Linked DNA regions of Homo sapiens. The protein of the gene in region 1 interacts with the protein of each later gene in a biochemical or structural test. Each region holds a gene or a part of one and is shown on either strand. Other genes may lie near its edges. The genes, in order: ABCA2, DLG2 and CARD11.

Region 1 (3,650 bases):
CTCACCAATCTTGGCGTAGTACTCGTTGATGTACTCGTTGTAGGCCATCTCCATGAGCCCGTGGCCCAGGTTGTAGTTGGGGAAAATGAGGAAGCAGCTTTTCAGGTAACTGTTGACAACCTTCAGGTCCTGCGGGGTGGCCGGGGTCAGGGGCACAGGGGTGGCCGGGGTGAGGGGCACAGCCTCCGCAGGGTCCGCCACCCCCACCATGTCGTCACCGCCCCACCTTGTCGTGCTCGAAGAGCTGTAGCAGGAAGGTGGCCACGGTGGCGGTGATGCCGATGAAGAGATTGATGACAATGAGGAACACGTAGGCGGAGCTGGGGACCTCGAACCAGAAGGAGGCCGGGTACATGATGGGCGTGATGGACCACCTGCGGGCAGGTGGCGGGCAGTGGTCACCAGGCAGCCCCGGTCCCACCTGAGGCCGCTCCCCCCTCCGCTTCCGCTTACCCATAGAGCAGGAAGAGGGAGAGGACGGCAGGGAAGTTGGTGGGCGACGTGTAGGCCGGCAGGTCGAACACAAACAGGATGATGACACAGCAGGTAGCGGGGACCAGGTAGTTGAGCTGCAGGGGTGGGGGCGGCTGGTGAGAGACCCGGGGCAGGGCGGGGATGGGGGATGAGAAGGGCCGGGGCACCCCATGGCCACGCCGGGCGCACCATGTCCCACACGTAGTTCGCCAGCCAGTAGATGATGGGGTTGCAGCCGCTGACAAACTGCAGGTGCTTGGCCTTGGTGGACTTCTCGGCCACGAGGAAGACAACGAAGCTGGCCGGCACGAAGGACATGGCCACGATGATGAAGATGGCGATGACGACATCCGTGCCCTGCAGCCTGGGGCAAGGAAGCCCTCAGTCCTCACGGCCGGGGCTGCAGTGCCCACCTGCCCCACCTCATCCCCCACTGGCCACACTTACAGGTAATCCAGGGAGAGGCTGGCGCTGGTCTTATTCATGGGGTGGTTGGTGACGGTGATGCCTGCACACGGCGGGGCGGGGGCGGCAGCTTCAGGCCCCAGCTCCTCCCCGCCCCGGCCCCAGCTCCTCCCCGCCCCGCCCCGCCCTGCCTATGTCAGCTCACCGTAAGCCGCCGGGTTGCCCTTGCTCTTGGGCAGGTTGGCACGCAGGATGGCGTTGTTGAGGCTGTTGAGGTAGGTGGGCATGCTGTGATAGCCCTTGTTGTTGTAGAAAACCTGCAGAAGGAAGAGGACACAGAAAGGCCCCAGGACCTCAGACCTGGGTCCCTGCAGACCTCGGGCGGCGCTACACACAGCGGGGCCCAGGCCCGCAGCCTCGCTCACCTGGGCAGCCCTGCGCACCGCGATCTTCCGCACCATGGGTGGGGCCCTGGTGCCAAATGAGGCTGGGATGGACTTCAGGACGTTTCCAAAGGTGATGGCCCCATACCTGGGCAGGCAGGTGGGAGGGGCGGTGAGGCTAGGCAGGCAGTGAGGCTAGAGGGGCAGGAGTTGAGACTAGGTGGCTGGTGGCCGGCCACCCTCACCCACAGCCTCCCCACCCAGCTCACCGGTGCAGTCGGAAGCGGTCGGAGGTGAAGAGCAGGTACTCAGAGACATTGTGGCCGGTGATGTCGGTCAGGATGTCGCCTGTGACCACCCGCATCTGGGGCGGGTGCCCGCCCACACTGCTGGGGCAGGAGAAGCCGGTGCCCTGCGCAGAGCAGGTGCAGCGGACGGGCTCCCGTACCAGGCGCGGCAGGGAGGGTGCCGACGTCCACATTTCTGTGGGCACAGCATGGTGCGGTGAGAAGGACCCCTCACTGCCCCTGCCCCCCCAGCAGGCCCCCTGAACCACTACCTGGCCCAGCGGTGGGCGGCAGGGAGACGTTCCAGGCCTGCAGGTCCTCATCCGGGGACGCTGGCGAGTCAGATGGGGCGGGCGAGGGTGGGGGTGGCACGAAATTGGACAGTGGCAGCCCCTGTGTGAAGGACTCCAGACACATGCTGTCGAAGAACCGAGCCGCCAGCAGGCGCGACTCCCCGCTGCTCAGGTTCAACGTGGGCCCCAGCGAGCCGTTGGCGGGAGACTTGAGCACGCAGGTGGCACCCACCCCCGACGGCAGCCGGAACGTGCTCACGAGCTGCTGGGGGCTGGCGTCGGGCGATAGCCGCAGCCTGCGGGCACCGACAGTGTGAGGTGGGGCTGCCAGTCTCCGCCCCTCGCCAGCCCCGCCCCCTCGCCCGCCTGGCCCACCAAGGCTGTCCCCGCCCCTTCACTCGCCCCACCCACCAAGGCTGCCCCCGCTGGAGGCCTCACCGGTACTCGCGGCGCTCCTCGTTGGCGTAGGGGATGAAATTGCCACGGGGCTGGGTGTAGTTGTGGTACTGGGAAGGTGACAGGACCAGCGGGGGCAGATCACCTGGCAGGGCGAGCAGGGAGGCCTGAGCAGGTTCTGCCCTCTGGCCAGCGGCCCCCAAGCCTCGGTCCCCTTCCCCCAACCCCAAGGGATCCACGCCTGGGGTCTGGGACCCGAGGAGACAGGACTCCCGGATGAACCCCGGTGCGTGCCCAGCCTCAGGTGTGGGGTGAGGCCCAGAGTCAGGAAGCTCAGGAGTGGGCATCATCAGGGCTCCCAGCGGGCGGTGGGGGGAGGCAAGCCCAGCACCCCTGTCCAGCCGGTGGCCTACCAATCTCCGGGACGGACAGGGCCACGGTCATGGCCACGCAGACGAAGAAGGCTGGCAGCAAGATCTGGGAGAAGAGTGCCTTGGAGTTGCGGCGGGCGCAGTGGAAGCGTTTGACCAGCAGCCCGTGGAACTGGCGCACCTTCAGCCACCCGCCGTCCAGCTTGCGGCTGCCCTGGCCGACCCTCGACAGGGCCTCTGCCTCCACCTCTGTGCAGAGAGGTAGAGGCTGAGCAGGTGGTTGCACGCTACCCTCTCCCTACTGGCTGCCCTCATGCCGCTCCCCCGCAACCCTGCTCCCCCTCCCTTGCTGTCCCAGCCTCACCCTGCCACCCCCACCTTGCAGGCTGACATTGTCTGGGTCCTGTGGGTTATCAAAGAGGGGGCGGTAGTCGCCATAGACGTCGGTGTAGCCAGCTCCCTCGTCGCCACGGGCAGAGCCCACAGATGACGCCGACTGCAGCGATGCCTGCGACTGGGTCAGCTCCGAGCACCGGGCCAGATTGCCAGCGTGACCCTCCCCAGACGCCGGGCCCTCCGCCCCAGGGAGCACATCCTTCCTGGACTCCTTCACATCTGCCGCAGTGGAAGGGCCGAGGGGACACTCAGGGCTACTGGCCCCTAGGCCTGCCCAGGACCCCCATCCCCGGTCTTGACCCCAGTTCCCAGGCTCATACACCTGTCCGGGACCTCTGGCCACCAGGACCACCCACCTAGGACCGCAGGCTAACCCCGGGGCGTCCCCTGGCTTCCACCCAGGACCAGGGTGGCGCCCCCAGACACCAGGCAGGAGTGACAGCGCAGGCCCGAGCTGGGGCCTTGTGGGTGGGGTGGGCTGAGCAAGTGGTCCAGGCCCCTCACCGGCCTCACTGTTCTCCAGCGACTGATCCTCCTCCGACACCTTGAGGAACACTTCCTCCAGGGTCGTGTCCATCAGCCCGAAGCTGCTGAGGTGCAGTGCATCCAGGCTGCGCTCCAGGTGCTGCAGGGGCGGTGGAGGGG
Region 2 (3,650 bases), on another chromosome or scaffold:
AACCAGCATTTATACATGTTATGTGGCTGCTGCACTTCACAGATAGAAAACTTGAAATCTATTACCTAAGTAATAACGGCTTGAACCATCTTAGTGGGTTTCTCAGATAAGAAGACTTCAAGTATTCACTGGACTGTATTCATTTTCATGTGAACATTATAGATGAGATTTTAGCCCTTATTATTGATTTAGTATTGTTCCTATCTGCATAAAGTGCCTTTTTTCTCTTCTTGCATAAAGTTATTCTAGCCTCAGGGTAATGAGGACATTTCTCTCCAGGAGGTAGAATATGATGTGGCAAATGTATCTGCATATCCAGAAATGCTTTATAAAGCAGCTGCTTGCTCTGAGCACTCATTGTGGTGGAAGCCAAGTTAAATGAGGTGTGCTATAATGTAATAGCATTTTTATTTGTTAACAAACAAGAAATTTACATACCTCATGCAAGCCTTTCTCTCTTGGCATTTAACCCGCATTTAATTTATATATATATATATATATATGTTTTAATTATATATTTTATATGTGTGTGTGTATATATATATATATATATATATATATATATATATATATACATATAGTTTTTATTTTTTTTGAGATGGCATTTCACTCTTATTGCCCAGGCTGGAATGCCATGGCACGGTCTCAGCTCACTGCAACCTCCACCTCCTGGGTTCAAGTGATTCTCCTGCCTCAGCCTCTCAAGTAGCTGGGATTACAGGTGCCCACCACCATGCCTGGTGAACTTTTTGGATTTTTAGCAGAGACAGGGTCTCACCATTTTGGTCAGGCTGGTCTCGAACTCCTGATCTCAGGTGATCCACCCGCCTCGGCCTCCTAGAGTGCTAGGATTACAGCCATGAGCCACTGCACCCAACCAACCATATGTTTAAGTTAACCATTTTTGTGTCTGCCCTCCACTAGACTGAGTACCTTGCAGACAGGATATGTACAAGTACTTGGAAAAATTCACATTATTCTCAATCTTCCACACCGAATGTTGGGCAGGGTGAGACAATGAGGTGTCTATTTTTTCCAACCAACAATTCTGTTAGTGCTCCAGACTTGGGTTTGCATGCTCCTAGCACTAAACTATTGGGCAAGTTAGTTAGTGTGAGTCTTCTGTAAAATGCAGCTGATAATACCTACCTCAGAGATTTGGGAATTTCTTCTGACAATTGTGTTCAGAGATGGTTTTTAAACTTCATGAGAACAGACTCAGTCACATAACATACGGCTGCATGTCATCTTTGTGTGTTACATCAGGTATTTAACTGAGAGAACATATGTAAAATGTCCAGTCCAGTAGCAGACACTTTGTAAGGGGCTAGTTAGTATTAGTTATTGTAAACACTCAATGATGACCCTATATATCGATTTTTATTTACTCTTTGCAGTGATCTTTTTCTGACTTTAGAAATCCAGCATCCCCTACCTTCCTCTAAAACCTACATACATTAGTTTCCTTTTGTTGGATTATGGCCATGCTTCCTATATTAACTTCATATTTTTCTTCTCTTTCTACCAGGGCAAACACTGTATACTTGATGTATCAGGAAATGCTATCAAGCGGTTACAAGTTGCCCAGCTCTATCCCATTGCCATCTTCATAAAACCCAGGTCTCTGGAACCTCTTATGTGAGTAGAGGGCATTGGAGGCCTTCATCCAACTGACTCCCTGTTCTGTATTATACTGAAAATTACTAACAGGATTTTGCTGGGAATGCTTACAAATGGGAAATGCCATTGTTGATTTTTCAGCATTCTCTTTTTTTGAAGATATATCAAAGTTCTTTTAAACAACTAGAAACATAATGTCAGTGATTTCTTTTTTTAACATCCCTCATTTTAACAATAATAGTAATTCCTTAAAACATCTTCAATAATGTTTCCTGATTTTTATTGTTTTACTTCACGGATTGTTTTCTTTGTTAGTTTTTGAGGTTTTGTTGTTGTTGTTTTGAGGATAGCTTGGCTTGATTTGGTTTTTTGGTTTGCTTTTGTTTTCCAAATGATAGGAAGCAATCATTTTTTAATTGTCTCATACTTCTGAGGCAGGTCTATAAGTAAATCTTTTTAAATGTGTAGATTTTTTATAGAGAGAGCAGACAACGTTTGAGACTTTTTTCATTGGCATTTTCCTTGGTTCTCTAATAGAATTCTGATGTTCCTTAATTAAAACTTTACATACATAGAACATCGTTCTTAATAGAGTTTTCTTAGTGGCGTGGCAGTAAAACATCTGTAACTTAAACCAGTAGCTTCATACCTGTGCACTCAGGGTTTTTTCTTTTTTTTTCCCCTCCAAAGGACTTGTGAAATAACTTCTTTCAAGAATCATTAAACAAAGTGGGCAGACATTCACGATCTGACTGTAAAGTCAGTATAGGCAACTCCCATTCACAAAGGTGAAGCTACAGTAGATAGAGGTAACCAGAAAAGGGGCTACCAGCAGGGACCTGAAAATTGATCAGGCAAGATTTGGTTCTTTACTTTGCCACTGATCAGTTAAGTAACCTTGGGCAAATTGCTTGACCTTTCTAAGATTTAGCTCCTCACCTCGAAACGAGGCATACTAATAAATACCTCATAGAGCTAGTATAAAGGTTAAATAACAAGATTAGGAATTTAGTAAAGCTGTTCATGTACTCTTTGGCATATGGTAAGTACTCAATAAATAATACCTATTATTATTGTAAAAGATATAAAATTACTTCATTATAAAGGAATAAAACTATTTTATCATTATAAAACACATAAACAGTACCTCTTCCATGACAGTGCAAGAGATAATGCCAATGTGTCTGTCATGAGGGCCTTGATCAAATTTTGCCTTCATCTGGGCCTCAAGACCATAGTGTTTGACAGGGTTCAGGAGTGAACCACAGAGTACTGGAAAATAATGTTTATGGAAGGACCGAAGAAACAGAAATTATTTAATCCCAGTGGTGAAAGCAATTGCTTACAGAGGATATTAACTGTTCTGTGTCTCCTCTGAAGACAAAGAAGCAAAGCAAACTGCAGCAGCTGGAGTGGCAGCCTGAGAGAATTAAGTTAAATACATAGTTGAGCTCTGGGGAAATAGCCAGAGATGTACCTTGAAAGCAGAATATAGTCCCATATATAAAAAATGGACAAGGATTCTTACCAGGATAAAAAAAGTAAGATCGGGAGGTCACTGACAGTACCTTCAGCCCCATGAATTTAGGTATTAAATTATAATATAAAGAGTTTTTCCCATGGCTGGCACATGGAAAAATATGTACTAATGATAAAATAATGATTCTTAATATTATCATCCCCAATAGCATGTATTAAATTTCTCCTTGTATAGGATACTATGTCGGGCATTGCACAAAGTGAATTAAGCAAGTACAAATTTCATGATGTAAAATTGATTTATAATCTGTCAAGAGCCTCATAAATATAAGTAATGCTAACATTAATGAGAAGAAAAATAGTCCTTACTTCCTGGGAACAGCCATCTTAAAGGCCTGTTTCAGAAATAGAAAAATAAATCTTCATATTGTAAACACTCAGTGGGATAAATGGCTTCCCAGGGGAATGAGGCCTGAGGGAACGACAGCAGTGGCACATTTGGTCCGGTGCAATATTAGGAGACAGTCCCATCTGGCATTCCATAGGAGAAG
Region 3 (3,650 bases), on another chromosome or scaffold:
GGGCCATCAAGCTCAGCCTTCCTGCTGTTTCTTCAAAAACAAAAACAAAAACAAAAACAAAATGCCCCCTACTTATGGGCTTTGCGAGTGCTTTCCCCTGAGACTTGCATGGTTGGCTCCTTTCATCCCTTCAGATCTCTCTTCATGTGTCTCCTTCTCAGAGACCTTTCCTGGACACCCTAGTTAAAGTAGCAATCCTCATGTTCTGTCCTCACGCCCTGTCTTCTCTTCTTGATAGCACTCATTTCTACCAAGTATCTATGCATTTGTTTTCTGATTACAATGTTAGTTCCACGACAGAAGGGTTTTAGTCTTCAGCTATGTATCCCTGGAAAAGAGCCTGGGGGCCAGGTGTGGTGGCTTATACCTGTAATCCCAGCACTTTGGGAGGCCAAGTGTGCAGATTGCCCGAGCCCAGGAGTTCAAGACCAGCCTGGGCAACATGGTGAAACCCTGTCTTTACTAAAAATAGAAAAAGGGGGGTGGGTAGGATAAAAATAGAAAAAAATTAGCTGGCATAGCATGTACCTGTAGTCCCAGCTACTTGGGAGGCTAAGGTGGGAGGATCACCTGAGCCTGCAAGGCCAAAGCTACAGTGAGCTGTGATCACACCACTGCACTCCAGCCTGGGTGACAGAGTGAGACTCTGTCCAAAAAACTCCTCCAAAAAACCCAAAAACAAAAAGCCTGGTACCCGATGGAACTCAATAAACAGAAAGAATGAACGAGGCCGGGTGCAGTGGCTCATACCTGTAATCCCACCACTTTGTAAGGCCAAGGGAGGCAGATCACTTGAGCCCAGGAGTTGCAGATCAGCCTGGGCAAAATAGCGAGACCCCTTTTCTACAAAAAAATTGAAAGAATAGCCTGGCGTGATGGTGGGCACCTGTAGTCCCAGCTACTTTGGAGGCTGAGACAGGAGGATCACTTGAGTCTAGGAGGTCAAGGCTTCAGTGAGCCATGATCACACCACTGCAGCCTGGGCAGTGGAAGACCCTGTCTCAAAAAAAAAAAAAAAAAAAAAAAAAAAAAAGAAAAGAAAAAGAAAGAAAGAAAAGAAGGAAAGGAAAATAAAAGAAAAGAAAAAAGAAGATGTAAATCTCCTTAATTCATTTGCGGAGTGAGCCATTCTGGGTCTGCATGCGCATGTGCAAGGTGGATCTGGGACTGAGCCGGTGGTGGAAAGCTGCGCACTGGGTCGGTCCTTGTGCGCATGTCTGCCCATGCGCACAGGGGATGTAGGCCGCTTACCCGGTAGCGCTAAGCACTATGGGTACACGTGCAGGTGCATAGTGGACCTAGAACTCCCAGAGGCCCTGTGTCCTCCATTCCCCCACACCTGGCTGGCAGGAAGCTCCGGCAGACCACGTGCATGTGCCTGCACCTGCTTTATGGGAGAATTGAGCCCTGGTGACATTTGTTTCCCCCGGGTCACCCTGGCGGAGTAGCCCTTGGGCACCCCTCACCTCGAGTTGGAGGTCTCGGCTCCTCATGACCGCCATGTTCTTCTCCTCACTGAGCTGTGCGTAGCGCATGGCTAAGTTGTAGTTGTCGTCCTTCACCTTGACCAGCTCGTCATTGTAGCTGTCCCGCTCTTCCTTCATCTTGTAGTACCGCTCCTGGAAGGTTAGCAGCTCCACGCGCGTCAGCGTCATCTGCTTCTTCTCATCCTCCAGCTGCCGCAACCTGGCCAGCAGCTCGCAGCGTTGCAGGTCCTTGGCCTTCATCTGCTGCTGCAGCTTGATGACCTCGTTCATCAGGAAGTGCGTGAGGCCCTCGTGGCCTTCCTCCACTGTGGAGAGGGGGCACCCAGTCAGGCCTGAGGACTGGGAAGTGGAAAAAGGAGGTTCCAGACGCAGGGCAGGTGCCATTCATTCACTCACTCACCAACGTTGTGCCAAGCTCTTTACTCACTCTGCCCACGAGGCACTGGGGATTCAGAGTGAGCGAGACTCACAGCCTTGGCCCCGGGAGAGCTTAGGGTGTAATAAGAGAAACACATTTAAAAAAATCAAATGATACCACAAATAGAATTACAGACCGTGAGGATTTCACAAAGTAAAGGTAGATGGGGCTATGAGAGTGTGTAGCAGGGGCCCAGATCCAGCCTTGTGGGCAGAGGGGGTTGGAGAAGGCTCCTGATGGTTGAGGTAAAATGTTAAGTTCGGGTGGGAAAAGGCATTCTAGGAAAGGGGAACAACATTGCCAAGGCCATATGGGGAGGAGGGAGGAACTTGGCATATTTCAGGAACTGAACGAAGACCAAAGTGGCCGAAGGAGAGAGAGAGAAGAGAAAGGCGAGGCTGGTGGTGTCAGCAGGGACTGGATCATGAAGGGTCCTTGTGGGCTGCATTAAAGACCTGGGACTTTTTTTATATTTTAAAACAGGGTCTCGCTCTATTACCCAGGCTGGAGTGCAGGGGCATGATCATAGCTTATTGCAGCCTGGAACTCCTGGGCTCAAGCAATTCTATGGCTGCAGCCTCCAAAAGTGTTGGAATTTCAGGCATGAGCCACTGTGCCTGGCCAAGACCTGGGTCTTTACAAAGAAGCAATGAAAAACCACCAAAGGGTTTTAAATAGGGGAGGAAGAATGGAGAAAGCACTGGAACAGATCGGGAATGGATATGGAGAGTTAATGGGGTTGTGGGAGTCTGGACTGTGGGAAGTGTTGGGGCGGGCGAGAAGACTGATTCAAGAATGTTTAGAAAGGAAGATTAAGAAGGCAAGATGCTCAAGGGCTCTGGCCCATGAGACACTAGAAAGAATGCAGGCAAGGCAAGGACAAGATCTACGGGGTAGAATGAACTTGTGTTCCACCTGGCGCCATTCATGGGGGATGGTCCGTGAACACCCACTTCTCTTGGTTCCTGCTTCCCTTTGCCCCTGTTAACCTTTCATCATCAAGCAAAATAAGTGGTTGACAGACCCCAGTTCTATATGTCATAGATTCACAGCTTAAGAACCATGCCACTACTGAGGACACACACACACACACACACACACACAGACACACACACACACACGCCCCTCCTCTTAGAGTCCAGATGTTCCCAATGGCAAAAGCACTTACCCACAATGGTGGAGAATCTCCGAGTGGGCTCTTTCCCAGTCACCAGTTTGTACAGTTCTGGGTAATAAAATTCTAGGCTCTCCAAGAAGACCACATAGCCCCTTTGCCCCTTGGTATGTAGAATGTCCAACAGCCGGCCTAGGGGAAAGACCAGATCACTCTGTGAGAATACATATCTGATGGAACGCAAGTCTCTGTGGCTGGTCTCATCCTGGACTTGTGTCCTTCAATCAACTCTAAGAAGACAGTCTCCCCACATTCTATCACTTCTGAGTTGTATCTTGGAGCCCAGATGACGTAAATCAAGGTGCCAGGCCCTCCGCAGGGATTTGGTGAGCGTTAGTTTTCTGTTTCTAATAAACTGGTAGAACCAGGATAAATGGAATTGCCGCCCCAGTTTTGAAGAGTTTCCCAACTGACCAGGGCCAAAATGAACCACGTAGGCACCAGGTCTTCTATGACTGAAGGAGGTTGGAAGCACGATAAAAATTATGGAATAATATATGGTTCTCTGGGATTGAGAGCAGGAAGACAAATCTTTGGGTGAGAGGCTAGGAAAAATCATAGGAAGTAGGGA

The links.
Region 2: the proteins of ABCA2 (region 1) and DLG2 interact in a test that uses a peptide from one of them, tested with the Homo sapiens proteins (one large-scale study listed by IntAct).
Region 3: the proteins of ABCA2 (region 1) and CARD11 interact in a test that uses a peptide from one of them, tested with the Homo sapiens proteins (one large-scale study listed by IntAct).

The regions. Positions count from the first base shown.
Region 1 is NC_000009.12:137,011,181-137,014,830, forward strand, and holds part of ABCA2 (ATP-binding cassette sub-family A member 2), read right to left. Parts: intron 3,631-3,650; coding exon 3,510-3,630; intron 3,225-3,509; coding exon 2,988-3,224; intron 2,859-2,987; coding exon 2,652-2,858; intron 2,384-2,651; coding exon 2,281-2,383; intron 2,139-2,280; coding exon 1,822-2,138; intron 1,746-1,821; coding exon 1,532-1,745; intron 1,411-1,531; coding exon 1,305-1,410; intron 1,197-1,304; coding exon 1,085-1,196; intron 983-1,084; coding exon 922-982; intron 839-921; coding exon 664-838; intron 570-663; coding exon 454-569; intron 375-453; coding exon 227-374; intron 130-226; coding exon 6-129; intron 1-5. UniProt on the Homo sapiens protein: Probable lipid transporter that modulates cholesterol sequestration in the late endosome/lysosome by regulating the intracellular sphingolipid metabolism, in turn participates in cholesterol homeostasis.
Region 2 is NC_000011.10:83,464,696-83,468,345, reverse strand, and holds part of DLG2 (disks large homolog 2), read left to right. Parts: intron 1-1,528; coding exon 1,529-1,638; intron 1,639-3,650. UniProt on the Homo sapiens protein: Required for perception of chronic pain through NMDA receptor signaling. Regulates surface expression of NMDA receptors in dorsal horn neurons of the spinal cord.
Region 3 is NC_000007.14:2,942,746-2,946,395, forward strand, and holds part of CARD11 (caspase recruitment domain-containing protein 11), read right to left. Parts: intron 3,212-3,650; coding exon 3,074-3,211; intron 1,793-3,073; coding exon 1,467-1,792; exon of another isoform or gene 1,290-1,466; intron 1-1,289. UniProt on the Homo sapiens protein: Adapter protein that plays a key role in adaptive immune response by transducing the activation of NF-kappa-B downstream of T-cell receptor (TCR) and B-cell receptor (BCR) engagement.